Homo sapiens: one gene and its partners. The protein of the gene in region 1 purifies or fractionates together with the protein of each later gene. This does not show direct contact. Each region holds a gene or a part of one and is shown in the gene's direction. Other genes may lie near its edges.

The links.
Region 2: the proteins of KCNN4 (region 1) and HEATR3 purify together in Homo sapiens (co-immunoprecipitation; one large-scale study listed by IntAct). This does not show direct contact.
Region 3: the proteins of KCNN4 (region 1) and EVA1C purify together in Homo sapiens (co-immunoprecipitation; one large-scale study listed by IntAct). This does not show direct contact.
Region 4: the proteins of KCNN4 (region 1) and EDEM2 purify together in Homo sapiens (co-immunoprecipitation; one large-scale study listed by IntAct). This does not show direct contact.

The regions. Positions count from the first base shown.
Region 1 is NC_000019.10:43,766,351-43,772,943, reverse strand, and holds the end of KCNN4 (intermediate conductance calcium-activated potassium channel protein 4), read left to right. Parts: intron 1-808; coding exon 809-944; intron 945-3,114; coding exon 3,115-3,225; intron 3,226-3,383; coding exon 3,384-3,502; intron 3,503-3,911; coding exon 3,912-3,981; intron 3,982-5,236; coding exon 5,237-5,401; 3' UTR 5,402-5,404; intron 5,405-5,854; 3' UTR 5,855-6,411; downstream 6,412-6,593. UniProt on the Homo sapiens protein: Intermediate conductance calcium-activated potassium channel that mediates the voltage-independent transmembrane transfer of potassium across the cell membrane through a constitutive interaction with calmodulin which binds the intracellular calcium allowing its opening.
Region 2 is NC_000016.10:50,092,847-50,100,469, forward strand, and holds part of HEATR3 (HEAT repeat-containing protein 3), read left to right. Parts: intron 1-1,858; coding exon 1,859-1,947; intron 1,948-7,383; coding exon 7,384-7,527; intron 7,528-7,623. UniProt on the Homo sapiens protein: Plays a role in ribosome biogenesis and in nuclear import of the 60S ribosomal protein L5/large ribosomal subunit protein uL18 (RPL5). Required for proper erythrocyte maturation.
Region 3 is NC_000021.9:32,416,892-32,424,514, forward strand, and holds part of EVA1C (protein eva-1 homolog C isoform 1 precursor), read left to right. Parts: intron 1-2,931; exon of another isoform or gene 2,932-7,623. UniProt on the Homo sapiens protein: Binds heparin.
Region 4 is NC_000020.11:35,114,521-35,122,143, reverse strand, and holds the end of EDEM2 (ER degradation-enhancing alpha-mannosidase-like protein 2 isoform 1 precursor), read left to right. Parts: intron 1-3,424; coding exon 3,425-3,546; intron 3,547-4,936; exon of another isoform or gene 4,937-5,008; intron 5,009-6,210; coding exon 6,211-6,711; 3' UTR 6,712-6,780; downstream 6,781-7,623. Other genes in the region: MMP24-AS1-EDEM2 (ER degradation-enhancing alpha-mannosidase-like protein 2), read left to right, coding at 3,425-3,546, 6,211-6,711. UniProt on the Homo sapiens protein: Involved in the endoplasmic reticulum-associated degradation (ERAD) pathway that targets misfolded glycoproteins for degradation in an N-glycan-dependent manner.

The DNA.
Region 1 (6,593 bases):
CCCCCCACCATGTTTCTCAATTGAATGATGGGAGAATGGGGAGGAAGTCAAAGTTCCACATTCCAAGGCAGAAGTCCTGAAACTAGAATGTACTTCGGAATGAGGGGGTGGGGTTTGTGAACAGTACAGATTCCATCTTCGCTCCTAGAAACTCCAACCCGGTGGGTCTGGGGTGTCAGGGGCCCTCATGAATGAAGCTTTCCCTGCTGGTCTTGCGGCAAGGGGCCTGTGGACAAAGTTAGACAAATCTCAATGTTTCAACCCCTTCCATGGCTGGACTTAAATGTCTCCTCTGTGAAGTGAGAGGAAAGGAAGGCCGAGTCCCACCAAGCCTTTTTAGAGTCCTTTTTGGTCCTGATAGGGCCACTTCTGGACCACACAGCATCTTTGTGGAAATTAGAAAAATATACCCCTTCCTCTGGGTGGATGTAGCCACCAGTCAGGGTCTGACTGGGTTTTGGCCCCCTATCGACTCTCCACCCTCAACCACACGCTCTGAATGCTACAGCAGCCCGGGTAGCCTAGCTGAGACCATACCGGCATTGGGATTGGCCAGACCCAGTCTCAAATCCCAGAGTGGCTAAGCAACTTGCCCAGGTCACACAGCAGAGAGGAGGCCATGCAGGCTTTCCAAAGCTCAGAACTTAATGGCTTTTTGTCCAGGTGATTCTTAGGACTATGGGTGTATACTGGGAGGGGAAGGGAGGGAACCAGAGGGAAGGGGATGGGAGGGTATAGAGGGAAGGGGAGTGAATATCATGGAAACCTCTATGGTGGGGTTTTAGAACTAACCTACCCTTCCCCATAGGCAGGCTGTTAATGCCACTGGGCACCTTTCAGACACACTTTGGCTGATCCCCATCACATTCCTGACCATCGGCTATGGTGACGTGGTGCCGGGCACCATGTGGGGCAAGATCGTCTGCCTGTGCACTGGAGTCATGGTGAGTACAGCTGCCTTGGGGACATGATCCCTATCCCAAACTGGTCATCCTCTGGCCCCAGGAAGCCATGATTAAATGGGTTCAACACAGGCTCTCAGGGACAGCTCCTGAGAAACTTGAGTGTCTGGGGCCCCCAGAGCCCCATTCTCTCTTCAAGAACAAGATACTCACCTGTAATCCCAATATTTTGGGAGGCCAAGGTGGGAGGATCACTTGAGCCCAAGAGTTTGAGGGTACAGTGAGCTATGATCATACTGCTGCACTCCAGCCTGGGTGGCAGAGTGAGACCCTGTCTCTTAAAAAATAAAATAAAAAATCAGACCTAGGAATCCAGCCCCTAAGTCCTTGCTCTCTCTAGAACCTAGGGCCCCAGCCCTTATCCTCCTCAGGGACCCAGGCTCCTGACTTCGCAGCCCCATTTTCTTCCAGAACTGGGAAATCGTCTCCCAGCCTCCATCAAGGGTGTAGAGTCCAGTTATCAAGTGCATACCTGTGGGGCCAGGCTACCTGGGTCCGAATCCTGCGGCTGCCACTTCCTGGCTGGGGAGCTCAGGCGAGCCACGTGATCTCTCGGGGCCTCACTTTCCTCATCTATAAAATGGGGATGCTGATGCTCCTCATGGGCTTGCTGAGATGATTAAATGGGTCCAACTACGTAAAGTGCTTCCAACAGTGCCCAGCCCACAGGAGGTGCTCAGTAAACAGGTCTAGGGGTGGCCAGGCATCCAGCCACCCCACACCAGCTCCTGTTGCCCTCAAGGATGAGGCAGAGGCTCTGCAGCCTGAGTCAGCCTCTTCCTGAACCCTGACATCCACCTCCTTCCCTCCATAGACCCAGTCACTCAGGTCCTCCCACCCAGCCCTGGCCCCCTCTAGAGACTAGCACCTAATGCCTTGGCCTTCACCTCCCTACAAGATCGGGTTCCCCTCACCCTCGGGGACCTAAGCCACCAGCACCTAGCCCAGATGTGGGCCTAGGAAGGACATATTCATCCCCCAATCCCTAGGTGCACAGGTGAAGGATGTGGTGACCTCCACTCCCCCAGTGGTGAGTCTTTGGAGCAAGGGAAGAGGGGCAGAGACTCAGTTAGGGACCTGCAGCACCGCTCAGGACCTCCTCCCTCATTTGACAAAAGGAGAAACAGAAACCTAGAGAGATAGGGTGATGTGCACTTGAGCTCACAGCCTGCTCCTGGAAGAAAGGCTCCATGGCATGGTTGGGCCATAAAAGCTTACTTTTCCGGAGCACATACTCTGTGCCAGTCTCTGCCCTACACACTTGCCAGGGGTAATTCATGAAATCCACCTAGTAACCCTGTGAGGCCATTTCACAGATGAGACACTGAAATACTGAGAGATTAAATAACTTGCTCAGAGCTGGGCTTGGAACCCAGGCAGTCCCCTGGAGCCAGCGTTTGTGACTGGAAGTTGTTCTGAGTGATCAAGAGCTGAAACTATAGGGTTGGGGATGCTTCCTAGGAAGATTCCTTCTAACTTGGGGACAGGTGAGCAGATGCCACAAGCAGCTAGGAATTGCCAAGGCCTTGAAGGGCCAGGAGCATTGGGAGAAGGAAGGGAGGAGAATGAGTGTTCGGAGGAAGGTGCTCAGGGAGGGCAGGCAGCATGGAGCCAGGGCTGAGTTGTCCAGGTGGGAGGCATAGACCTTGGAAGGCCTTGGGAGCCAGGCTGAGACGTTCAGGCCAGTGGAAGCCTGGGAGATTAGAGGGGACCAAGGGGGTTAGGGGAGGATGAGTGGGAGGCTGGAGACGGTCCAGGAGAGAGAAGACAGGGCTGGAGCTAGGAAGAAGTTGTGGGAGTGGGAGAAGGATGGTCGCCCTCCACAGTGCAATGGCTGACCACATGAGCACTGAGGACCCAGAGGCCTGCCCCTGGCTCAGAACCCAGCCTTCCTCTCACTCCTCCAATCCTATCCTTCATTCAAGAGGCCACCCTGAGGGTGTGAATGCTATGCATCAAATTTGGGCTCGGACGTATGCGATTTATGATTCTAGCTCCACCGCTCTGAGCTGGGACCTTGGCTCTCCTCTCTGAGCCTCTTTGCTTGTCTGCTAACTGGGGATGGTCGTGCCTACCGTCTGTGGCTGTTGGGCGGGTTCAAGGAGGGAGTCGGTGGCACAGCCTCATGCCACGGTGCCTGCTGTGCCCACAGGGTGTCTGCTGCACAGCCCTGCTGGTGGCCGTGGTGGCCCGGAAGCTGGAGTTTAACAAGGCAGAGAAGCACGTGCACAACTTCATGATGGATATCCAGTATACCAAAGAGGTGAGATGGGCATATGGCACCCATGGGACACCCCTCTTCCAAGAAGCAGGAGTCCAGGCGCCCCTGCTTCCCCTAGGACCCAAGAGTCCCAGCCCTAGCCCTGCCTTCCCAGAACCGTAAGGGTCTATCTCCACGGACACTGTGCCACCCACCCCCAGATGAAGGAGTCCGCTGCCCGAGTGCTACAAGAAGCCTGGATGTTCTACAAACATACTCGCAGGAAGGAGTCTCATGCTGCCCGCAGGCATCAGCGCAAGCTGCTGGCCGCCATCAACGCGTGAGGGCCGCTTTGTATGCACACGTGTCCATGTGCACCCATGTCCAAGTCACCTCTCTGCACGGCTGTGTGTGTGCATGTCCATGCCTGTCCAGGTCAGGACACCCAGGTGTGGTCTCACTCAACATCCAGGTCTCACCTGGATCTGACCGTGCATGACTCTATGTGTCTGTGCTGGTTTGTCTCCGCATATCTCGGTGTGTCTGCGGACCTGGGTACCTGGGTTTCTACTGGGGATGGGGGCTCGTGGGGAGGCAGGGTGCATCCCCTCCCACTCTTTCAGCTCTTCGACAACTTTGTTTCTTTGTTTTGTTTCTTCATGTGCCTCTCCTCCCTTCATTCCTCCCCTGAGCTACAGCTACATTCAGGGACCAGGCTTGTAAAACTGACTCCCCACTTCTTCCCACAGGTTCCGCCAGGTGCGGCTGAAACACCGGAAGCTCCGGGAACAAGTGAACTCCATGGTGGACATCTCCAAGGTACTAGGATCCCGTGGGAGGAGGTCTTGAAGAAGGGGGAGGTTGGGGCCACAGGGAGGGAAATCTGGCCCTAGAACAGGGAACCTTGGCAGGGGCCTGGCACACACAGCCTGTCAGTAAAGGTCTGTGGTTGAATGAAGGAAGGAAGGAATGAATGATGCAACACAGAGCTTCTTACATTCATGAAAGGCACAGATCCCTTACAAACTGAAAAAAAAAAAATTGCACAAAGAACCCCAGTGTTTGGTTTCAAATTATCTTTATTGTTAAGTTACTTACATGTGGACGGATATAAAATTCCTTCCAACTACAGCTCATACAATAAAACCAAAGCAAATTTACAAACCAAGCCCATAGACGGCAAAACCAATACAATTAAAATGAACAACACTGACAAGGACACAGGTGACATTGTTTCCGTAAAACTCAATCTCTGCTGCTCTTGTGGAGGGGTACTCAGGGCAACAGGGACGTCCATGCAAGTTTGCCTGGCCAAGGCGTGACTCAGCTACCCGCCCCCTTCTTCTGCTGAGACCATTTGATTTCGCCAGTGCTTAGGGACAATGATGTCACAACACCCCCTTGGCCTGGCTCACAGCATCTTCTGCTTATCTGGTGGCCTTTGCTTTTTCTCGTTAGCCCACGACAGTTCAAACAGTGGCCCCTGGCAGCAATGCCATGGTAAGCACGGTCACAGATGCAGGCCCCAAAACCGCATGGCAGGTCTCAGTGACGAGGCAGTGGCCCAGATCTGCAGGAATTGGCAGGTGGTAATTTCTGAAGGTTATCAAGCCAAAAACACAGAATTCAAGAATTTCCATAGAAAATCCACAAACCCTCAGGGATCAACTAGTGAATCCTAGCCAGAGAATGCAGTAAAAGACTATGTGGATTTGGAAGTCAGGCATCATCCATGCTAGAAATATCTAATGAGCACCTGCTATGTTCTAGGTCTTATTTCAGGAGCTGCTTTGGGCATGTCATTTAACTGTTCCATGCCTGTTTCCTCAGCTGTAAGACAGGAACAGGATTCCCACTCCCTGTGGCTTTTGGGAGGATTTTAAACCATATAGGGAAACACCTGGGCAGGTAGCTGGGAAGTGGTAGGTGGTCAATACATGGTAACAGTTATTGTCGAGGGTAATCCTCAGAGGACCATAAGGATGTGGTCAATATTGGTTCCATTGCCTTACGCTATGGAGTAGGTGGGGGTCGACCCCAGCCCCGACACCTCTGATCCTCTCCTCCCACCCAGATGCACATGATCCTGTATGACCTGCAGCAGAATCTGAGCAGCTCACACCGGGCCCTGGAGAAACAGATTGACACGCTGGCGGGGAAGCTGGATGCCCTGACTGAGCTGCTTAGCACTGCCCTGGGGCCGAGGCAGCTTCCAGAACCCAGCCAGCAGTCCAAGTAGCTGGTGAGGGGGCTGGGACTTGGGCAGGAAGGCATCCTGGAGGAAGGGTTCCTGTGGCCAGCACCCTATGTGGCTAAGGGGGCGGGGGATGGCTGGGAGACAAGGCCGCCTTTTCTCATCAGCTCTGGCACTGTCTGGAGGAAAGGACTCAGTTCGGGGCTGGACTGGCAGTGAAGGAAGATGGTGTACCCTCTCCCCTTCACTGACCCTTGATGGCCTTCTCCCTCTTTGCTTGGTCTCTCTCTCTCTCTCTGCCTGTCCTGGGCACATTGTCTGGCTGTCCATCCAATGTCTCTGTCTAAATGCCCTCCTGCCCCCTGGCCTCGGGGCCCGGAAACACCTGCCCCCTGTCTCCCACTTCTGCCCACCGGTTTCTGTCTGCACCTCGGTGTGTCCCACTCTCACTCTCCCTCTTCCTGGCCTGCCTCTCCATCAGTCTCTCTGTCTCTCCAGGACCCACGAGGAGGAACCAGGCTACTTTCCCCAGTACTGAGGTGGTGGACATCGTCTCTGCCACTCCTGACCCAGCCCTGAACAAAGCACCTCAAGTGCAAGGACCAAAGGGGGCCCTGGCTTGGAGTGGGTTGGCTTGCTGATGGCTGCTGGAGGGGACGCTGGCTAAAGTGGGTAGGCCTTGGCCCACCTGAGGCCCCAGGTGGGAACATGGTCACCCCCACTCTGCATACCCTCATCAAAAACACTCTCACTATGCTGCTATGGACGACCTCCAGCTCTCAGTTACAAGTGCAGGCGACTGGAGGCAGGACTCCTGGGTCCCTGGGAAAGAGGGTACTAGGGGCCCGGATCCAGGATTCTGGGAGGCTTCAGTTACCGCTGGCCGAGCTGAAGAACTGGGTATGAGGCTGGGGCGGGGCTGGAGGTGGCGCCCCCTGGTGGGACAACAAAGAGGACACCATTTTTCCAGAGCTGCAGAGAGCACCTGGTGGGGAGGAAGAAGTGTAACTCACCAGCCTCTGCTCTTATCTTTGTAATAAATGTTAAAGCCAGAAGTTGCCATTTCTCTCTAAACATATCTACACTCCTAACTGGCAGACCGTCCAGTGGAAGACTGTTGCCTTGTCTGAACCTGTCTCAGAGGCCTTCTCCTGTAAGTGCCCTCCCAACTCTGTAGGCTGGGCAGTCCTCAGCAACAGTCCCCTGCCCAGATCTGAGGCAAAGAGCAACAGCTTTG
Region 2 (7,623 bases), on another chromosome or scaffold:
TGGAGTTTGCATTCTAGTATAAATAAATGTTTTATGTGATATTAGCTATGAAGAAAAAAGTAAAAGCAGAATGATATGAGGCGTTACACTAGGCCAGTTAGTGTGGAAAGGCCTCTGTGAGGAGGTAACATTTGAGCCAAGACTAAAATGAAGGCAGGAGGAGTCACATAATTATGTCAAAGGCAGCTCTCTATCCTAGGGCTGAGTGTGTAAAGCTCTCCTATTATTCTGTGATCATTACGGGAAATCCCCTATTTTGGTACATAATACATATCTGAAAATGAAAGAGCCAAAAAATACAATCAGCCGGGATTAGAATTTGAACAGAAGCTGCCTCTCTTCTACCCGGGTAACCTAAAAGTGGGGGATCGGAATGGTATAAGTCCCAGGAACTGTGGGGCAGGAAGTGAGTGTATCTATTGCTACGTAACAAGTTATTCCAAAACTCTGTGACTTAACAACAACAACAATCATTTATTATTTCTCGAAGTTTCCTTTGGTCAAGAATTTAGACAGGGCACAGTGGAGATGGCTTTTTCCTATTCCACAATGTCTAGGCCAGTGGTTCTCAACCATGGCCACTTATCCCCTCCCACCTCCCACCTGGGGACATTTGGCAACGTCTGGAGGTATTTTTGGTTTTACAACTTGGAAATTGCAACTGGTGTCTAGAGGGTTGAGGCCAGGAATGTTCCTTCACATCCTACGGTGCCCAGGAGACCCCTGCGCACACATAAAATGAAGAATTATCTGGTCCAAAATGTCAGTAGTGCAGAGGCTGAGAAATACTAGTCTAGGGCCTCTGCTGGAAGACTCGCAGAGTATGGGCTGGAATCATCCGAAGTCTTGTTCACTCACGTGTCTGGCAGTTGGTGCAGGGGTTGTCAGGAAGAACACCCACAGTGACCTCTTCATGTGACGCAGGCTTCCTCATAACAGGATGGCTGGGTTCCCAGGGCGGAAGTCGAGAGAAAAAAGAGCATGCACACATGCGTCAGGGCTGGAAGTCATACTGCCTTTTGTGACCTAGCCCGTCACTTTGTATTCTGTTGGTTGAAGAAGTCACAAAGTCCCACCCTGATTTAAGGAAAGGAGAAGTAGATTTCACATCTTTATGGGAAGTGGCAAGGTTCTTGAAGATCACACAGGACTTGAAATATTGCCATGGCCATTTTTAGAAAATACAGTCTACCACACCAAGCAAATCTCTTCCCATCAAAGAGGTTAAGGAGCCAACTCCCCTGGGTGACCCTCACTGTCCCTTGCACGTGCCTGTGCCAGCATAATGGCTTACTGCTGGTGTTCTGTTTGTCCCGTGTGGGAAGAAGGGACAATAAGAAAAGTGTGCGAATAAGGAGTAGGAGTGGGAAGGGGATGCTGGGTCAGTTAAAGTGATGGTGCCATCATGTCCTGGCTCTGCACAAGCAACAGTGTGTGGCTAAGCAGTGGGCTTGGGTTGGCAAGGAAGCATTCTGACTCCACCAAAGGTAGTTCTACCCAGCACCCTGATGGAGATCTATGAATGACAGAATTCAGTCTGCAAAAGCTAGCTTAGGTTTATTATGTGCTGAAGTGTGAGTCAAATGAAAACCCAGTGTCTGGAAGTCAAGGACTGTCTGTAGAACACCTCCTTGCTGTGATTATTTTAACCACGATCATCTTTCAGACTTAGGTATAGAGTGTACAGGGGGCTGTTAACTAAATATTTTGGCTTAAATATCGAGGGTTTTTTTTTGTTTGTTTGTTTTATTAAGAATAGCATTTATTAACATTTAGCATGCTTTGTTTTGTTTGTTGCTTCTACAAAATAGCCTATCTTGGAGAAATGCAAATTTTATATTTCATTTTTGTGTTTTAGATTTTGCTAAACATGTTGACTTTCTAGAAGCCATAAGTAGTGCTTTGAGGGCCCTTTTGCAAACAATGGCCTCCAAGAACATTTCCCAGGTAAGAGTTTTAAAATTTTTTGTATGAAACTTGTAAAGATTGTGTATTATGGAGGCAAAATTCATTACTTCACTATTTTAAAAAATACATATTTCTGTTACAAGAATAATATGTGATCTTTGTAAAAAATAAAACAAAAGTGATTAAAATAAAAAGTAATATCTTTCTGCTCCCTACCATCAGCAACACACAGGTGCTTTTAATTTAATTTTTTAAATTTTTTAATATATAGGCTTACTAGCAAAACAAGTGCTTTTTAATCAATACAACTTAATTGATAGATATGTTGTAAATAATTTCTCTATCATTGGTCTTTTTTTTAAATCTTTTTTTTTTTTGAGACAGAGTCTTCCTCTGTCGCCCAGGCTGGAGTGCAGTGGCATGATCTCAGCTCACTGCAACCTCTGCCTCCTGGGTTCAAGTGATTCTCGTGCCTCAGCCACCCAAGTAAATGGGATTACAGGCATGCGTCACCACAAAATTTTTGTATTTTTAGTAGAGACGGGGTTTTGCCGTGTGGCCAGGCTGGTCTTAAATGCCTGACCTCAAGTGATCCACCCACCTTGGCCTCCTAAAGTGCTGGGATGACAGGCGTGAACCACCGTACCCAGCTTTTTTTTTTTTTTTTTTTTTAACATTTCATTACAGACTTTGCAAGCATGCCCTCCTGACCCTTCACAGCAATCCATGTGCACTTCATCTCCCATAGGTGCCTTACCACTTTTGCTACTTTTTACTAAGGAGACTTTTAAACATTCCTAAAAGCAGAGATAATAATGTTGCTTTGTTTTTTGAGACGGGGTCTTACTGTGTTGCCCAGGCTAGTCTCCTGGATTCAATCCTCCCACCTCAGCCTCCCAAGTAGCTGGGATTACAGGTGTGCGCTACCATGTCCAAAGCAGAGATAACCCTATGAGCCTGCATGCACCGTCGCCAAGCCTCAGCAGGTTATTAGCGTCCTGTCATTCTTGTGACATGGTTTCATTCATCTCACTGGGTCCTTATTTTTGTTTCCTGGAGTATTTTAAAGCAAATCATATTAGACCCATCAATATTTTATTATGTAGTTCAGTATGCATGTCTGACAGAAAAATAAATTTTTAAAAATCTTAACCCCAGTACCATTACCCCAAGGCTCCAAATTAACGGATATTTCTTATTATCCTTTGGTTTGCACTCTGAGTTCAGTTTTCCCAGCTGCAGTCTAAGTTCAGTTTTCCCAGATTGCCTTAAAAATGTATTTTAACATGGCCAGGCACGGTGGCTCACACCTGTAATCCCAGCACTTTGGGAGGCTGAGGCGGGCAGATCACCTGAGGTCAGGAAGTCAAGACCAGCCTGGCCAACATGGTGAAACCCCGTCTCTACTAAAAATACAAAAGTTAGCTGGGCATGGTGGCGCACTCCTATAATCCCAGCTACTTGGGAGGCTGTGGCAGGAGAATCACTTGAACCTGGGAGGCGGAAGTTGCAGTGAGCCAAGATCATGCCACTGCACTCCAGCCTAGGCGATAGAGCAAGACTCCGTCTCAAAAAAAAAAAAAAAAAAAAACAGAAAAAGAAAAAAACGTCTTTTAACAGTTGGCTTGTTCAAATCAGGATCTAAGCAAGGTTCATGTGTTGCTTTTGGTTGATATTTTGGTCTCTTATTATCTCTAAAAAAAATTTTACTGAGATTTGATTCACATACCATGCAGTTTATCCATTTAAAGTATACAGTTCAGGCCAGCTGCAGTGGCTCACGCCTGTAATCCCAGCACTTTGGGAGGCCAAGGCCAGTGGACCACGTAAGGTCTGGAGTTCAAGATCAGCCTGGCCAACGTGGCGAAACCCTATCTCTACAAAAAATACAAAAATCAGCCGGGCATGGTGGCAGGCACCTGTAATCCCAGCTACTTGGAAGGCTGAGGCAGGGAGAATTGCTTGAACTGGGAGGTGGAGGTTGCAGTGAGCTGAGATTGCACCACTGCACTCCAGCCTGGGCGACAGAGGGAGACTCTGTCTCAAAAATAAGTAACTAAAGTGTACAATTCAGTGGTTTTAGTATATTCTCATATTCTTAAATCTCTTAGTCTATAGCATTTCCCTCACTCCCCTCCTTTCCCCATACACTTACCCATTGAAGAAACTCTCATTTTGTTCCGTAGCATTTTCTGCACTGGCAGATTTGGCCAACTCATCATGATGGCATCGTTCAGCATTCCTCTGTCCCCCATGTTTCCTGTGAGCCGGGAGCTAGGTCTAGAGCCTTAATTAGATCCAGGTCCAGATTATTTATTTATTTATTTTTTGTATTTATAATAAATAATCTAGACAGGTCCAGATTTTTTGGCAAGAATAATTTATAGTGCTTTATATATTTCCTATATTTATATCACAAATCATATGATATTATAAAATAGTGATGCTGAGATTAATTAGTGGGTTCACATAATGGTTTTATAACCAGTGATTGTGGTTGCCTGGCTCCATTATGTCATTAGTGGGTTGCAGAATAGAGATACCCTAATTTTGTCTTTTCTTTTTTTTTTTTTTACATTTATTAGCTATGATTTTTTTTTTTTTCAGAATAGCTATCCTAGCAATCTCTATAAGTGACCAGTGATTTTTTTTTTTTTAGTATCATTTTGAACTCAGGGTTTTTTATATATTTGTATTTCATTCCATTATAGTCATGCTTTTTGCTGCCAAATTCATCCCATCTTTGGATAGTAGGAGTCCCTTCAAATTGGCTCCTGTGCCTCTTTTACAAGAATTTTAGGTTTTTGATCACTTTTGCTTCCAGGCATAGGATGTCCCAGGTTCAATTTGTAATTTTCTTGCTTAAAACCTGGAATCTGGCCAGGCACAGTGGCTCATGCCTGTAATCCCAACACTTTAGGAGGCTGAGGTGGGCGGATCACTTGAGGTCAGGAGTTTGAGACCAGCCTGACCCACATGGCGAAACTCCGTCTCTACTGAAAATTCAAAAATTAGCTGGGTGTGGTGGCACGCGCCTGTAATCCCAGCTACTTGGGAGGCTGAGGCAGGAGAATCGCTTGAAGCCAGGAGGTGGAGGTTGCAGTGAGCCAAGATTGCACTGCACTCCAGCCTGGGTGACAAGAGTGTGACAAGAGTGAAACTCCGTCTCAAAAAAAAAAAAAAAAAACCCTGGAATTAGTTACTTCTCCAAGAAGCTCTGATTTCTTTAGTGGGGAAAGTGAATTGTGGAGTGCTTATTGCTATCATGTTGCCATTGTTTCTAGGTCTTTTTAGTGGAAATAGCTAGGAAATAGGCATTTTTTTAGGAGACAAAAATAGTAAGTTTATCCTGATAATTTCCAGTTTAAATAAAAAATGGTACAATATTTTTACTTAATTTTCGATTTTGTATTTCTATCTTTTTGTATCCCCCAAAAAGATACATTTGTACCCAAAAAGGTACATTGTACCCAAAAAGATACATTAGTGACATTAAAATTCTTATTTGCAGCTGGTCTGATGGTAGTGGGTTATCAGGACTTATTAACATTAGTGTCACTGAAGTTGGTATACAACCCCCCACGCTAAGTTTGACTGGCTTTAAAAATAATAATAAATAGGTCGGGCACGGTGGCTCACGCCTGTAATCCCAGCAGTTTTGGAGGCCGAGGTGGGCGGATCACAAGGTCAGGAGATCAAGACCATCCTGGCTAACACAGTGAAACCCCGTCTCTATTAAAAAATACAAAAAATTAGCCGGGTGTGGTGGCGGGTGCCTGTAGTTCTGGCTACTCAGGAGACTGAGGCAGAAGAATGGTGTGAACCCAGGAGGCGGAGCTTGCAGTGAGCCAAGATCGGGCCACTGTAATCCAGCCTGGGCGACAGAGCGATACTCCGTTTCAAAAATAATAATAATAATAAATAATTTAAAAATTAAAATTAGAGAAAAGAAAGAAAAATATTTTTCAAAAATTTTATTATTTGCTTTCTCCTACAGAATGTACTTTGTAGTAGTGACATTAAAAGACATTAAAATTATTTGCTATACAGTGATATTAAAATTGTTTGCTGTAGTAACATTAAAATTGTAGTGACATTAAAACTATTATTTGCTTTATCCTACGGAATGTACTTAATAGTATCAAAATAACAATGCTCTTGTTATTGCCAATAACACTATTTCTTTTTGCTTCTTTATATAATTTTTTTCTTAATGCTTTTAAAATTTTTTTATACTTTATTTTTATTTTTTAGTTTTTTAATAGAGATGAGGTCTTGCTATGTTGCCCAGCCTGGTCTTAAACTCCTGCTCTCGAGTGATCCTCTTGCCTCAGCTTTCCAAAGCTAAGAATTTTTTTGAAGAGCATAATTTGACCCTCAGTTTCTAAGAAGTAGGAATGGTAATGGGATGCATAGCCTGCCATGTGGCTGTTGGATGGACCAGAAAACCTTATACTCTAGGGCCTATAGGAATATCAAGTATTTTTATTGATTTCCCCTGGTATGTAAGCAGCAGCTTATGGGATCAGTGTGATGGTTAAGGAAAATTACTCAAAGCCCATGTTCAGGGCCAGGTGCAGTGGCTCATACTAATAATCCTAACACTTTGGGAGCCTGAGGCGGGAGGATTGCTTGAGCCCAAGAGTTCAAGAACAGCCTGGGCAACTTTGTGAGACTTCATGTCTACAAAAAATAAAAATACATTAGTCTAGTGTAGGGGCTCACACGAGTGATAAGTAGTGAAGCTAGGATTTGAACCCAGGGTTCAATCTCCAGATTCCAAGCCTTTGTGTCTGGCTCCAGATTCCAAGCCTTTCATCACTACACTGTGCTGCTGCTTATAGGAGATAGTCTCACTCTGTTGCCCAGGCTAGAGTTCAGTGGCACAATCTCAGCTCACTGCAACCTCTGTCTCCCAGGTTCAAGCGTTTCTTGTGCCTCAGCCTCCTGAGTAGCTGAGATTGCAGGCGTGAGCCACCGCGCCCAGCCTTAAACTGAAAATTATCCACTACATGGTAGAAGCACCATATAATGTAATGGTTTCTACAGTCTTTAATTATGATAATACAGATATCTCAAAGTAAGTTCTTACCTTGTATAGACTCAGCCAATTTTTTTAAAACCACACAATCCTATTTATACTTTCAAAGCCTTTTTCTTACCATTAATATTAAAAAGGAATTGGACTCTCTTTAGTGTGTGTACATCTGGAATGAAAGTCTTCATCAAATTAAATGGAGCCCCTTTGATATTAGATAACAGTGCCGACATGAGCAGGGTTCACCTTAGTTCAGAATTACCAGCTCTGTCTGGGAGAACTGGAATACATATTAATAGTAACTTACCTGCCAGGAGTTTATGTCACTCTTAAAATCCTGTAGCCTATAGAGGAGATTCCTGTCAGTCCGGTTTTCACATGCTGATAGAATTAATTGAGTTTAACATTATAAATACTGTCCTCTTCTCTTTTAACAGTGCATGACTCCTGATCAGCTGATGACATTATGCAAAGCAGGCATTCATAGTAGTAATGTCGGGGTTAGAGTGAATGTCGTTAGCATTTTAGGAATCACTGGCAGCGTCCTTGCCAAAGAAGATGGTACACTTGAAACTCTTAAGGTAAAACAATTTGCTTCTGACCTAACATGTTAAATAATTAGAAATGGGAGAAGAACTGTTGGTGTAGGATTTCTTAAAACTTGTGTGGACTTGAAG
Region 3 (7,623 bases), on another chromosome or scaffold:
GTCTTTAAGGCCTTCCTTGTACCCAAATGTCCCCAGACCTCAAACAAAGGTCACTCTATAATAGAAGTGTTGTTGTTGTTTTTTAATGGAGTCATGCTCTGCTGCCCAGGCCCGAGTGCAGTGGCTATTTGCAGGTGCAGTTATAGTGCACTGCAGCCTCAAACTCATGGCCTTAACCGATCCTCCTCCCTTAGCCTCCTGAGTAGCTAGGATTACAGGTGTGCACCACCCCACCTGGCCTGGGCCAGTGTTCCAGTCCCTGCCATTGGTAGCCCAAGTGAGCATTAAGTGGTACTTGGTACCAGATTGTATTAATTTGCTAGGGCTGCCATAACAGTGTACTACAGACTGGGTGGCTTACACAAGGAACATTTATTTTATCACAGTTCTGGAGGCTAGAAGTTCAAGATCAAGGTCTTGGCAGAGTTGATTTCTTGTGAGGCCTGTCTCCTTGGCTTGTAAATGGCATCTCCCTGCTGTATCTTCACATGGTCTTCCCTCCATGTGTGTCTGTGTCCTAACCTCCTCTTCTTACAAGGATATCAGTCATATTGGACTAGACTCCTTCAAATGATCTCATTTTCATGTAGTCACCTATTTAAAGGCCCTGTCTCCAAATACTATCATAGTCTGAAGTGCTAGAGATTAGACTCCAATGTTTGAATTTTAGTGGGATGCAGTTCAGCCAAAACTTAGATCATTTGCAGCCCAATAAATAAACCTGACTGATAGCTCTTTATTTCACTGGCCAGGAATTCCAGGGTATAGAAATATGGTAATTCAATTGATCCCGGGGGCCTTGAGGTGGGAACTCAGTATTGATGGACACAGTTGTTCATTTTGGAGAGGTTGAACCCTGTTATTTGCTTTCAGATAAGCATTGGGTCTCAGTCCTGGCAGCACAATAAAATCTCCTGGGGAGACTAAAAAAATATCTATGGACATTCAGGCTGCACCCCAAGACTTCTGATGTAATTGGCCCTGGGAGAGCCAGTCACTGATCTCTTTTTGAAAGCTCCCCAGGCAATTCTAATATGCAGCTAGAGTTGAGGACACCTCTGGAGTTCAGAGGGGAGGGTGACCTTCTGCCCATGCATCAGGTCATCCAAGGGCACAGAGTGTGGCTGGGTGTCCCCTTCACCCCCTACCCTAGGGCTCATCACCAGGGAGACCAGGACTGTATTTCCCCAGCATATCAGCACCTCGCAACACAGACACCTGTGCATGCACAGCCATGCAAACACACGCATGCACACACCCTTCCCTCTGCATTTCATGATGCCTCAGTCACATCATCCTTTTTATTCAAGATTTATCTTTACTTTAAAAAAATTTATGGAGTGAAAAGCCAGCTCGTAACTAAAGAAAAACAAACCAAATGTCCGAAGGAGTTGTCTAGAGGCCACAGAAGAAGAGAGATGAATAGCCAGTGTCTGAATCTGCTCATCTGTTTCCATGGAAAGTGACTACATCTGAAAAGTTTTCTGCCGGCTCTTTTTATGGCAGAGAAGAGTCTCGGCCCACAAGTGGTCCCTGTTATTGATGGCTTTGGTCTCCCAGGTGCTTTATTGGAAAGGGGAGCCTAGCAGCAGTTTCAGGGAAGAAACAGAAAGGAAGAGGGTAAAAGTTAATTGAACTCAGTTTTATCTGATTTCATCCTCGTAGCAACTCTGTGAGATCAGGACCAGTCTCATTTGCAGATGAGAACTCAGCCTCAGAGAGGGTAACAAAGTTGCCCAAGACCACCCAGCTAGGGAGCAGAGCTGAGGCAGGCTCCAGCACCAGGGCTGGCCAGAGTACAGGGATGGGGCCAGGCTGGGGACTTCGCCTGCAAGGGTGTTGGGGGTAGGGAGGAGCAAGGCCAGAAAAAAAAAGTACCACAATTTGCCTAACCTTTCTTGAAAGTTCATGGGGTCATTGCTGCCATTTTGGTTACCTTCTGAATAGACTGACCTTTTCCTACCCTCCCATCAGCATCATTTCATCACAGTCCTTCCAAAGTGGGTGCACTCACAAAGTGGTCCAGTGGGGTAGGAAAAACATGTCAGAACTTCTGTTCTTGCCTATTGGTTTTCCATCTTAATAAAAAAAGGAGTTAAGTTTTGCTTATAATTAACATATAAATTGACAGAACAACATGTAATTTATAAATAAGTGTGCATATATTGGAGATGTGTTCTCAAAATGTTTCTGTTCATAATGTTTTTTATAATTGTTTCTGCCAGTAATAATAATTATTTTTTAAAACTTTTATTTTAGGTTTGGGGGTGCATGGGAAGGTTTGTTGCGTAGATGAGTTCATGAGTTAAAAAAATTTGGAGGTCACTGATCTTCACAGCCATCCTGTTGGCTTAATATCTTTAAAATTCTTAGTGAGGCACCACTTTGAGGGTAATGTACTATGAGAGAACAATTGCTCCCTCGTTACCCACCCCTATTGCCTGACTTGCGTACTGCTCTCCCCAGCTCCACAGCTGCTAATAAAATTTAGAAGCAGGATTTGAACCCAGTACCTATTGGGTTTTAAATATCCATACTGATGGCCGGGCACTGTGGCTCACGCCTGTAATCCCAACACTTTGGGAGGCCGAGGCAGGTGAATCATTTGAGGTCAGGAGTTTGAGACCAGCCTGGCCAAAATGGTGAAACCCCATCTGTACTAAAAATACAAAAATTAGCTGGGCATAGTGGCATGCTCCTGTAATCCCAGCTACTCGGGAGACTGAGGCAGGAGAATCACTTGAACCCAGGAGGTGAAGGTTGCAGTGAGCCGAAATCGTGCTTCTGCACTTCAGCCTGGGTGACAGAGCGAGTTCCTGTAAAAACAAAAACAAACAAAAAACAAAAACAAACAAACAAACAAAAAAACATACTGTCACTGAAGCTGAGCAATGGACCAAGAAGGTGGGAGCGGGGGTGGGGGCTGGGGGGAGGTCTGAAGTTTTATGATACTTTGTCACTATTTTAATGAGGCTGGTATATTTGTATCCTTCTGTAAGGAAATGGTTTCTCATAATAACATAAATCCTAAATCCTACAGTCATGAAGATTTTAGTACTGGAAAAAGAATCTTGGGTTGGAAAGGCAGCTGACCAAGTGATTCTGGTGTCTTCTGAGTTTCCCCTTGCCCCTTGGGGTATCTCGTTCTGCCACCCCTTTAGTTGGCTCCCATGTGTGCACCACCGGCTCAGCAGAGGCAGTAACTTCTTTACTTGGTTTCCCTCAGTATGAGTAAAAAAGTTGGTGAGTTAAAAATACTTTTAGGGTTTTAAAAAATTTTTACAGCCTGGCCCATAGGGTGAAACCTGTCTCTACTTAAAATACAAAAATTAGCCAGGCATGGTGGTGGGCGCCTGTAATCCCAGCCACTCGGGAGGCTGAGGCAGGAGAATTGCTTGAGCCTGGGAAGCGGAGGTTGCAGTGAGCCAAGATCATGCCACCACACTCCAGCCTGGGCAATAGAGCGAGACCCTGTCTCAAGAAAAAAGAAAAAAAATTATCTTTTACTTTTGAGATAGGGTCTTGCTCTGTCACCCAGGCTGGAATACAGTGGTGCAATCACGGCTCACTGCAGCCTCAACCTCTGGGGCTCAAGCCATCCTCCCACCTCAGCACTCCCTAGTAGTTGGGACTATAGTCACATGCCAGCAGGCCTAGCTAATTTTTTTTGGCATTTTTTTTTTGTAGAGACAGGGTCTCACTATGTTGCCCAGGCTGGTCTCAAACTCCTGGACTCAAGAGAGCCACCCGCCCTGGCCTCCCAAAGTGCTGGGATTACAGGAGTGAGCCACTGTGCCTGGCCCTAAAAATAATTTATTAAGCACATAAAGCACTCTATGCCAGACACTGTTCAAAGAACTTCATGTTAACTCATTTAATCCTCCCAGTTGTAGCTATAAAGGAGATGCTAGTATAAAAAGTTCAAGAAACTGAGGCAAAGAGCAATTTAGTAACTTTTGGGGATTTGAATCCAGGTAGCCTTTCTAATACCAAGGGAATAAAACAAAATAAATTACATGCAGTTTAAAGCAGTGGCACTTCTGTCATGTTTATCTCTTCATTTCCTAGAGCCAAATCTTTCCCAGGACTTACATAAGTAATGTCCATTCCTTGTCCTGTTTAAAGATAGTACCATCTAGCCTCAAAGAACTGATTATAGAATTGGGTCTGTAATTTGTTTCTGGAAATTGGTGTTCTGAAACTATTTCCCCAACAAAACACCTAGAAATGCTGAATAAAATATAAGAAAAATCTTTTAATGTATAAATGAGTGGTGAGGAAACAAAAATGAAGAGAGAATAGAGAACTAGGGATGATAGCTGGTGCTAACCCTATGGCTACGTTGGAGTTGCTTGATGGTCTTGACAACGAAGATTTAACAGGTGCCTGAGCGCAGGCGATAAGGAGTGAGACCACTGTATAGTGAGGAATTAGAATAAAGACCTCTATATAAAGCCAGGACTTTGAAAACCTAAGCCTTCATTAAAAGGTGGATGTAAAACAAATCAGCCTTCTTGTAAAGAAAGATGACAAGGAAACTTGTCATAGCCTAGGTTCAGGATTGGAGAAAAAAATAATGTCTCTTGAGATGGTGTAATCAAAATTCTGCCTTTTGGAGAGTCTGGGTTTTGAATTCATATTACCTTTACTGGGAAACCCAAGTTGAGAAACTAATAAAGTTGTCCCATGATACCTGGCAAAAACAAACACACAGATACTGCCTTCATGGGAATATCATCAATATAGGCCCATCTATAGATTCCTATAGCTAAAATGCTGCTGATTATGATCACACAATTCAAAATTACATTATATGAGCAGTAGTCAGCAGCAATGACACGGTTCTTAAGTAATAAAAGAGAGAATCTAGGTCTGGGCATGGTGGCTCATGCCTGTAATCCCAGCACTTTGGGAGGCCGACGTGGGTGGATCACCTGAGGTCAGGAGTTCAAGACCAGCCTGGCCAACATGGCGAAGCCCTGTCTCTACTAAAAAATACAAAAATTAGCTGGGTGTGGTGGCGGGTGCCTGTAATCCCAGCTAGTTGGAAGGCTGCGACATGAGAATCACTGGAACCTGGGAGGTGGAGGTTGCAGTGAGCTGAGACTGTGCCACTGCACTCCAGCCTGGGCAACAGAGCAAGACCCTGTCTCAAAAAAAAAAAAAAAAAAAGAGGGAATCTAAAAAGAAATTTAAGAAGGAATCTAAAACATGAGAAAGGAACAAAAGGCTATCGAGAAAAAACAGGTGTATTTGTAAAAGAATCAAAGATATCTACTAACATGAAAAATATATTCATTGACATGAAAAGCCTGATGGGTAGGTTGAAGAGCAGATTAGGTATAGCTGAAGAGAGAAACAGTGAGGTGGAAAAAAAAGCTGGAGAAATTATCCGGAATGAAGCAAAACAGGTAAACATATGGAAAACATGGAAGAAAAGTCATAAGACATGGAGGATGGAATGATGGTTGAATATACATCTGATCAGTATTCCAGAAAAAGAAAGTAGGGAAAAGGAGAGAGAGGCAACACTCAAAGTGATGGTGTCCTAGGATTAATTTTTAAGGATTGATGAAAGATTCAGAGTTAAGCATTCCAAGGAAGATAAATAAAATAAATTTATACCTGAATGTGTCATACTGAAACTGTAAAATACTAAAGACAAAGTGACAGTCTTAAAAGCAATCAGATAGTAAAGGAAATGTTATCTATAAAGTCTTTGCTACAAAAACAGTGGGAGCCATAGACAGCGAAATAATATTTTCCAGGTTCTGAGAAACAAACAAACAAAAAACAACCATCAGTCCTGAATTATATACCCAGCTTAACTGCTTTTCAAGAGTGTGTGAAGGAAAGACAAATTTACCGCTAATGAATCTTTACTAAAAGAACTATTAAAGGGGTCAGGTGCAGTGGCTCACATCTGTAATCCCAGCACTTTGGAAGGCCGAGGCAGATCACTTGAGGTCAGGAGTTCGGGACCAGCCTGGCCAACTTGGTGAAACCATGTCTGTACTAAAAATACAAAAATTAGCTGGGCATGGTGGTGCACATCTGTAATCCCAGCTACTCACGAGGCTGAGGCAGGAGAATCGCTTGAACATGGGAGGTGGAAGTTGCAGTGAGCCAAGATCATGCCACTGCACTCCAGCCTGGGCAGCAGAGTGAGACTCTGTCTCAAAAAAAAAAAAAAAAAAAAAAAAAATGGTGGACAAAGAAATGGTACAACTTTGAATGCACTTTATCCACATTCCTTGCTCTGTCTTCCTGCTGAGGGAGTATAATCTTTTTGTATTGAGAGGGATGTTCTGTAATATATTTCACTCTTTTGATAGCAAAAGTCATGAGACACTTTCTTGACCCACTTGAGCTCTTCCAAGGACTATAACTTCCACCCTGAGATACTCAAGGCTCCTCCACAGGTGAGCCTCAGTTTCATGGTGACCACACACTAGAAATTCTGTAGGGAAGAATGGGAAACAGTCTAAAGCCTCTCAGGTACCAGATGCTGTGCTAGATATGGTACAACCTACTCCAAAAAATCATTCCTTCCCTGGGGAAGCTTGCTTCTTAGTGGGTTCATGGACACACACATTACAGAGGAGTTTGAGGGATGAGCAATCGATTTGGCAGGTCACATTCTCCAAAAACTAGTAAGCAAACCACAGAGCTTGGAACTGAGTGTTTGGAAGTATGTTCACAGACCTACTAGATGACTCTGGCTATGCATAGATTTTACATTTCCTTACATGAATTTCTCATCCTTATGTTCTCTCCGACACCTGTATCATTTGCTCACTCAAGCCTCTGGAAATGAATTTCTCCTGCACTAACAAGTTAGAGAATGAAATGATGCTTGGATGAAGTGATGCTTAGGGTTCGTTTCAATCTGAGAGCCAAGTTTTCCACACGCAGAAAACCAGGCAACATTAAAATTCAAAACTCAGGCCACGGAGTCTGAAATGTATGTTTGTGAACAGTCTGATTTCATGTCTGCCTCTGATGCCCTGTGAATACAAATCACCTCATCTGGGGCTGGAGGAGCAGAGAGGAAGAAACCTAAGAATGATCTCCAAAACAAATCTTTAATTCGGATGAGTATAATAGAGTGTAATCCCATTTCAAGTCTGTCAGCATTCCTTTGATGATTACAAATGAGTCCCTTTTCCCCTGCAATGTGGGGGAATAATCTGGATAAAATAATCCTTTTTGTCTGCAAAGGCCCATGCGATGCGTACTCGTGACAGCTTTCAGAGTAGTGTTTCAGAGTCTGAGAGAAGAGCACACTGTCCTACCAAGTTATCTCCTTTCTTTCTCTTGACTTAGAAGATTTTTCACTCTTTTCATGTTCAGTGGCTTCCGAAATTCTCAGGCTTAGAAATCATAAATCATCGTACTGTACTGAGGAACAAGAGAAACCCAGGTCACCAGCTCCTTTTCCCTCCCTGCCTGCTCAACAGGAGATGACAGGTGGAAATGGGAATGTATGATCTTATCTAGAAGTCCAATTTGTACAGCTTTGGAGGGATATACTTGAAGAAATTCACATAATTTTACAGTCTCTTTTTCATTAAAAAAAATGTACACTGAACCCAAGTTCAGGCTTACATGCCTCCCTTTGTC
Region 4 (7,623 bases), on another chromosome or scaffold:
TGTTCCATTTGGGACAGGCTGGCAGGAAGGCATTCATGGAAAGTAAGACACTACTGGCCAGATGCAGTGGCTTATGCCTGTAATCCCAGCACTCTGGAAGCCTGAGGCAGGAGGATCATTTAAGCCCAGGGGTTCAAGATCAGCCTGGGCAACATAGCAAGACCTTGTCTCTATAAGAAATATAAATAAATTAGCCAAGAGTGGTGTTGCATGCCTGTAGTCCCATCCCAGCTACCTGGGAGGATCACTTGAGCCCAGGTGGTCGTAGCTGCAGTGAGCCATGATGGCGCCACTGCAATCCAGCCTGGGCAATGGAGTGAGACCCTGTCTCCAAAAAAAAAAAACATAAGGCACCGCTGTCAGGAATCCAGGAGTGCGTTAATCCAGTCATCCCTCCTACCCCAAAACAATGGCAAATAGGAGATAAGGACTACTCTTTCACTAAATTGGCCAGAGCCCTGTACTTTCGTATATGTCTCTCTGATCAGCAGTGTTGGAGCACAGAGCCTAGCCTAAAGGCCTCTGCAGGCTTTTACCTTCCTCTAAGTCCAAATCTGAACTTTGGGCTGTCTCCTTCCTCTAGAGCAGGGATTCCCCAACCCCCAGGCCGTGGACCGGTACAAGTCCATGGCCTGTTAGAAACCAGGCCACACAGCAGGAGGTGAGCTGCGTGTGAGCAAGCAAAGCTTCATCTATATTTATAGCTGCTCCTCATCGCTCACATTGCTGCCTGAGCTCCGCCTCTTGTCTTATCCGTGGTGGCATTAGACGTTCATAGGAGCACAAACCCTATTGTGAACTGCATATGTGAGGGATCTAGGTTGTGTGCTCCTTAGGAGAAGCTGATGCCTGATGATCTGTCACTGTCATCCATCAACCCCAGATAGGGCTGTCTAGTTGCAGGAAAACAAACTCAGGGCTCCCACTGACTCTACATTATGGTGGATTGTATAATTATTTCATTATATATTACAATGTAATAATAATATAAATAAAGTGCACAATAAATGTAATGCACATGAATTATCCCAAAACCATCTCCTACAAGCCCAGTTCATGGAAAAATTGTCTTCCATGAAACTGGTCCCTGGTGCCAAAACGGTTGGGGACCACTGCTCGACAGAGTTGGTCAGATGCACAGGAAAGTAAAGCAATAACTAACATGCTTAGGAGGCCCACATGTGAGGAGAGAAGCGTGATGGCTGGTCATGAGGGCACTGGCCCACCAGCTGCTAGAAGCAGAAGAGGGCTGGGTGTGGTGGCTCACGCCTGTAATCCCAGCACTTTGGGAGGCCAAGGCGGTGGATCAACTGAGGTCAGGAGTTCGAGACCAGCCTGACCAATATGGCGAAACCCTGTCTCTACTAAAAATACAAAAATTAGCCGGGCACGGTGGCATGTGCCTGTAGTCCCAGCTACTCAGGAGGCTGAGACAGGAGAATTGCTTGAACCTGGGAGGCAGAGGTTGCAGTGAGCCAAGATCATGCCATTGCACTCTAGCCTGGGTAACACAGCAAAACTCCCTCTCAAAAAAAAAAAAAAAAAAAAAAGAAGAAGCCGAAAAAAGAAGCAGAAGAGGAGGCCTCCCATGAGGGCACTGTCTTTTCTGCCTTTGAACACACAGAATGTGTTCATCTAGTAATGAATGTACCCTAGTCTGTGCCTTAGAATATGAGCAATTAGATTAGCAATTGTCTAGAGGCCTGTGAGGAGAGGGGAGGAGGAAGTAAGAGAGAACTGGGGAGATAGGCAGAGACCTTTTCTCTAAAATAAGAACTAGAGGCTGGGTGCAGTGACTCACGCCTGTTATCTCAACACTTCAGGAAGCCAAGACTGGCGGATGACTTGAGGTCAGGAGTTTGAGACCAGCCTGGCCAACATGGCGAAACCCTGTCTCCACTAAAAATACAAAAATTAGTCAGGGCTGGTGGCGCATGCCTGTAATTCCAGCTACTTGGGAGGTTGAGGCATGAGAATCCCTTGAACCCAGGAGGCAGAGTTGCAGTGAGCGGAGATCGCACCATGGCACTCCAGCCTGGGTGACAGAGTGAGACTCTGTCACAAAAAAGTAATTAACGGAATAAAATAAGAACCAGAGTTTGCAGCAATAAGCCAAAAGGGACAGAAGCACTGATCAAGCCCAGGAGGAAACAGGACAGGAGAAGGTCAGGGGGAGATGATGGTATAGAAAGGAGACAGGGGTTCTTCTGTCTCTTAGAAAAGATGGATGAAGTAGAAAAACATACTGAGCTGAGGCCACCCTTGAAGTCAACTCTACAACAGTTCTTCAGGTATTTGAAAGCAATAAACACATTTTTTTTGGATTTCCTTATCTCTAGAATAAATATTCTCATCTGGACCCACTCCTGTTGGCTAATATTCATCTTAAGGTAGAGCTCATGTCTTAACATCAAGTTCCAGTTGTGGCATAGAATTGGGCAAGACAAAACATCACTTTTTCTGGCCACAGTGAACTGATGACTACGTCTTTGTTAGATTGACGGTTTGGTGGTTTATTTTATTTTATTTTTTTAATTTTTATTTTTTGAGATAAGGTCTCACTCTTGTCATCCAGGCTGGAGTGCCGCAGTGGCTTAATCATGGCTCACTGCAGCCTCAAACTCCTGGGCTCAAGTGATCCTCCTACCTCAGCCTCCTGAGTAGCTAGGACTACAGGTGCATGCCACACCCAGCTAATCATTTTTAATTTTTGTAGAGACAAGATCTCGCCATGTTGCCCAGGCTGGTCTCAAACTCCTGGGTTCAAACGATCCTCTCACCTTGGCCTCCCAAAGTGCTGGGATTACAGGCATGAGCCACCCACCATGCCTGGCCTGCTCTTGGATATCTCAGCCTTTTCTTTTGGTCCATCCTATCTTAGAACGAGCCTTATGATGCCAAGCTCTTACTCTTCTTTTGAGTTTTAGAATTAGGTTAGACTCTGAGTGACAGGAAAAAAAATAGTAGCTTAATTAGGATAGAAATGTATTTCTCTCTCATGTTCTGGGCTTATATGGCTCGCCATGGTGTCCTTAATCCCACCTAGCTGTTAGAATAGTTAGTGTTGGCAGCCAGGCAGCCTGTGCTTAGCTAAAGTTAGGAATCCTGCTACTAAGGAGGAAGCGGGGAACAGATATTGGGAATTAGGCAACAACCTCCGCCACCTTCTCTATGCCAGAACCTGGCCACCTTTCTCTCCCTTGTGGTGGAAGTCACTGGTCAGCCTTAATGCTGGTCTCCACTGAGCTTCAAGCTTTGGGTATACTGGCTCTGAAACTCAGCACTGGGTGAGGTATCCTGTGTTCCTGCTAGTTGGGGCCTTATGGACAAGATATGGAGGGGAGTAGTCCCTCACGGCCCTAAGAGGCCCCAGGCCATCTCTGTGCAGCCACTGAGTGAGGAGGGTCTGCTTTGGACTTTGCAGAACTTATTGAAAGCGCAATGTACCTCTACCGTGCCACGGGGGATCCCACCCTCCTAGAACTCGGAAGAGATGCTGTGGAATCCATTGAAAAAATCAGCAAGGTGGAGTGCGGATTTGCAACAGTAAGTGTTTGCATGGCCCCAAGAACTGGGAAGAGTCTCCCCTTGCTGCTAAAAAGCCTCTTTAAGGGTAGAGCTTTGGGAGTTCTGACATATCAGCACTAGAAGGGACCTTGGAGATATACATAATGCTCATATTTTACAGATGGGGAGACCAAAGAACAGAGAAGCTAAGTGCCTTGCTAAAGATCTCACAGCTAGTAGAGGTAGAGCTAGAATTAGTTCCTTGGGATCTTGACCCCGGCCCTTGGCATTCCTCCCACAGTGGAGATCTTTGATCTGTTTGAATAGGTGACTTTGAAAAGGTGAGTTTAGCGAAAAGTTTTGTGAGACACTAAAATAGATTTTAAGGGGAATCCAGAGTCCCATAGCCCTATATTCAAACCTGGGACTCCTTAACAAAGCAGTCCTGCTTAGTCTCACAGATATTTCTTGAATGTCTTTCACATGCCAGGCACTCTGCTAGGCCCAAGGGTTACAGCAGTGGCCTTGCTCTCATGGAGCTTACATTTTAATGAGAAAAAAACCATGAATGTGTATCTGGTAGACAGAAGGCCAGTGTGGCTGGAGCGGAGCAAGCAAGGAGAAAAGTGGGAAGAGATAAGGTCCCAGAGGTAGGCAGGGGCTAGATCATGTAGGGTTTTGTGTAAGCCACAGGAAAGAGTTTGGGTTTTTTTTTCTACTTGGAATGTGAACCCTTGGTAGGATTTACAGCAGAGCAGTGACATGATCTGATTTGTATTTTAGAAAGATCGCTTTGGCTGCTTTGTGAAGAATAGATTGAAAGGGTCAAAGGTGAGAGCCATCTCACATCCATGCAGGAACCAAGCAGGCAAGATATAAATATGAAAGTAGAAGAAAATAGTCTGGAAGAAAATCCCCTGAAAAGCCTACAGTGTTGGGGTATGGAATTCAAAACAACAACAAAACACTTATTTTGCAAAAGTTTGTAATGTGATTATATTCTATAAGTAAAATATAGATATGTGTAGGGGAAGAGAGAAGACCTACATGTGGAAGGGAAAAAATAAACCCCTGATATGATTTGGTTTCTAATATGCTGTATTGTGTGAAAAACCAAAATGATAAGCCCACTGGGGCCTTCCTAGGAATGCTGGGCTCATTTCCATGAACATGAAGCCCTTTGGAGGTCTTCCATGGTGAATGATGGGAACAGGGGTCTGACCTTTCTCAAACAGGGCAAGGAAATAATCATCTTGATACATCAAGACCATATTTGAGTCATATTTTTAAATGTAAGATAGAGTCCACTGAGAATGTTTTGTTTAGAAGTATTACTAATTCTGAGAAGCTAAAATAAATGTTTGTAGCAAGTAATCTTAGTCATCCATGCCTGAAAACTCAGTTGAAATTCTCTAAATAAGACTCCTTACTAAAACAATGTCAATAGTTTTCATCAACAGCAGTTGAACCTAGTAAGTGTCGATACTTTGGGTCTGAGTGGAGAAAAAAAGACCCCTTATTAGTTGCTTACAAAAACTTGGTAATTGGCCAAGCGCAGTGGCTCAGGCTTGTAATCCCGGCACTTTGGGAGGCCAAGGCAGGCGGATCACGAGGTCAGGAGTTCAAGACCAGCCTGACCAACATGGTGAAACCCTGTCTCTACTAAAAATACAAAAAAAATTACCTGGGTGTGGTGGCATGTGCCTGTAGTCCCAGCTACTCTGGAGGCTGAGGCAGGAGAATTGCTTGAACCCGGGAGGCAGAGGTTGCAGTGAGCCGAGACCATGCCATTGCACTCCAGCCTGGGCAACAGAGTGAAACTCCATCTCTAAAAAAAAAAAAACTTGGTAATCATCTGAATGCCCTTCCAAGGAGGATTAGCCAAGTAAATGGTGATCCATTTTCACGATGGAATACTCTGCCATCATTAAAAGGGACGATTAGCTCTATGTTTATAGTCACAAAAAGTTGGGATAAAGGGGATAGGAGATTGTCATGTCATAGAGCAAGGTTAGCGGAGACCTTTCTGGTGAGGAAGCATTTGAGCAGAGACCTGAAGGAAGGGAGGGAACAAGCTATGAGAAAAACTGGAGGCGGAGTGCTCCAGGCTGAAAGAACCACAGATGCAAAGAGCCCGAAGCAGGAGGGTGCTGTGCTAGCTCAGGACAGAAAGGCAGCAGCTGGAGCTCTTAGAGTGGTAAGAGGTGAGGGCAGGAAGGGAGCAGGGGCCAGGTCATGACTTGCATTTTTATCCTGCATGAAATGGAGGGCTCACAGAAAGTTGTGAGTAGAGAATTGACAGGAAGACTTATGTTATACAGATACTGTAGGAGCTTGGTGTGTGTCTCACGCCTGTTATCCTGGCACTTTGGGAGGCCAAGGTAGGAGGAATTGCTTGAGCCCAGGGATTTGAGACCAGCCTGGGCAACATGGTGTGAGACCCTGTCCCTATTTTTTAAAATAGTGTGTGTATATAAACTGCAGGGCTAAGATTGGAAGCTGGGAGCCCATTTGGAAGCTTATGTGATAATCCAGGTGAGAGATGATGGTGGCTTGGGAAAGAGTGAAGTTCTGAAAAGTTCAGTGATTTGCTCACAGGCCCTCAGCTGCTTTGTGGCAGAACAGGCCTTCTTAAGGGATTGCCTGACCCTTACTACTAAATTGTGATGGTGTTCCAGCTTGCTTCCTTCTCCCACATGTCAGATCAAAGATCTGCGAGACCACAAGCTGGACAACCGCATGGAGTCGTTCTTCCTGGCCGAGACTGTGAAATACCTCTACCTCCTGTTTGACCCAACCAACTTCATCCACAACAATGGGTCCACCTTCGACGCGGTGATCACCCCCTATGGGGAGTGCATCCTGGGGGCTGGGGGGTACATCTTCAACACAGAAGCTCACCCCATCGACCCTGCCGCCCTGCACTGCTGCCAGAGGCTGAAGGAAGAGCAGTGGGAGGTGGAGGACTTGATGAGGGAATTCTACTCTCTCAAACGGAGCAGGTCGAAATTTCAGAAAAACACTGTTAGTTCGGGGCCATGGGAACCTCCAGCAAGGCCAGGAACACTCTTCTCACCAGAAAACCATGACCAGGCAAGGGAGAGGAAGCCTGCCAAACAGAAGGTCCCACTTCTCAGCTGCCCCAGTCAGCCCTTCACCTCCAAGTTGGCATTACTGGGACAGGTTTTCCTAGACTCCTCATAACCACTGGATAATTTTTTTATTTTTATTTTTTTGAGGCTAAACTATAATAAATTGCTTTTGGCTATCATATTTTGGTTATCATGTTTTACATATTGGGCTGTCTCATGAGATTTCATTCAAAGAAAGGATTGGTGGCTACGGGCAATTGTGACTCTAGTTAATTTTCTCATGCAGCTGGAGAGACGGCTAAATGCGGTTAGCTGGCTCCAAAGATCCTAGGGGTCGATAGTTGAATCTCCCTTCCTTTTCTGGTGTCTTTGTGGAAAGTGTTGTCATAAATGTATTTCTTTGTTAGTTCTTGCTCCAACATGTGCTTCTTACTTTTTTTTTTTTTTTTTTTTTTTTGAGACAGAGTCTCACTCAGTCACCCAGGCTGGAGTGCAGTGGTGTGATCTCGGCTCACTACAACCTCTGCCTCCCAGGTTCAAGCAATTCTCCAGCTTCAGCCTCCTGAGTAACTGGGACTATAGGCGTGCATCTGGCTACACCGCATCTGGCTAATTTTTTTATTTTTATTTTTATTTTTTGTATTTTTAGTAGAGATGAGGTTTCACCATGTTGCCTAGGCTGGTCTCGAACTCCTGACGTCAGGTGATCCACCCGCCTCGGCCTCCCAAAGTGCTGGGATTATGGGCGTGAGCCACCATGCCCCGGCTGCTTCTTACTCTTTAGTTGACCTATCTATCCACCTGTCCTTCCAAGCAACGAAGATTTATTAAGCACCTTTTTTCTTTTGAGACAGGGTCTCCCTCTGTCACCCAGGTTGGAATGTAGTGGCATGATCACGACTCACTGCAGCCTCGACCTCCCAGGCTCAAGTGATCCTCCCATCTCAGCCTCTGGAGTAGCTGGGACCACAGGCACACACCACTATAATTTGCCTGATTTTTAAAAATTTTTTTGCAGAGACGG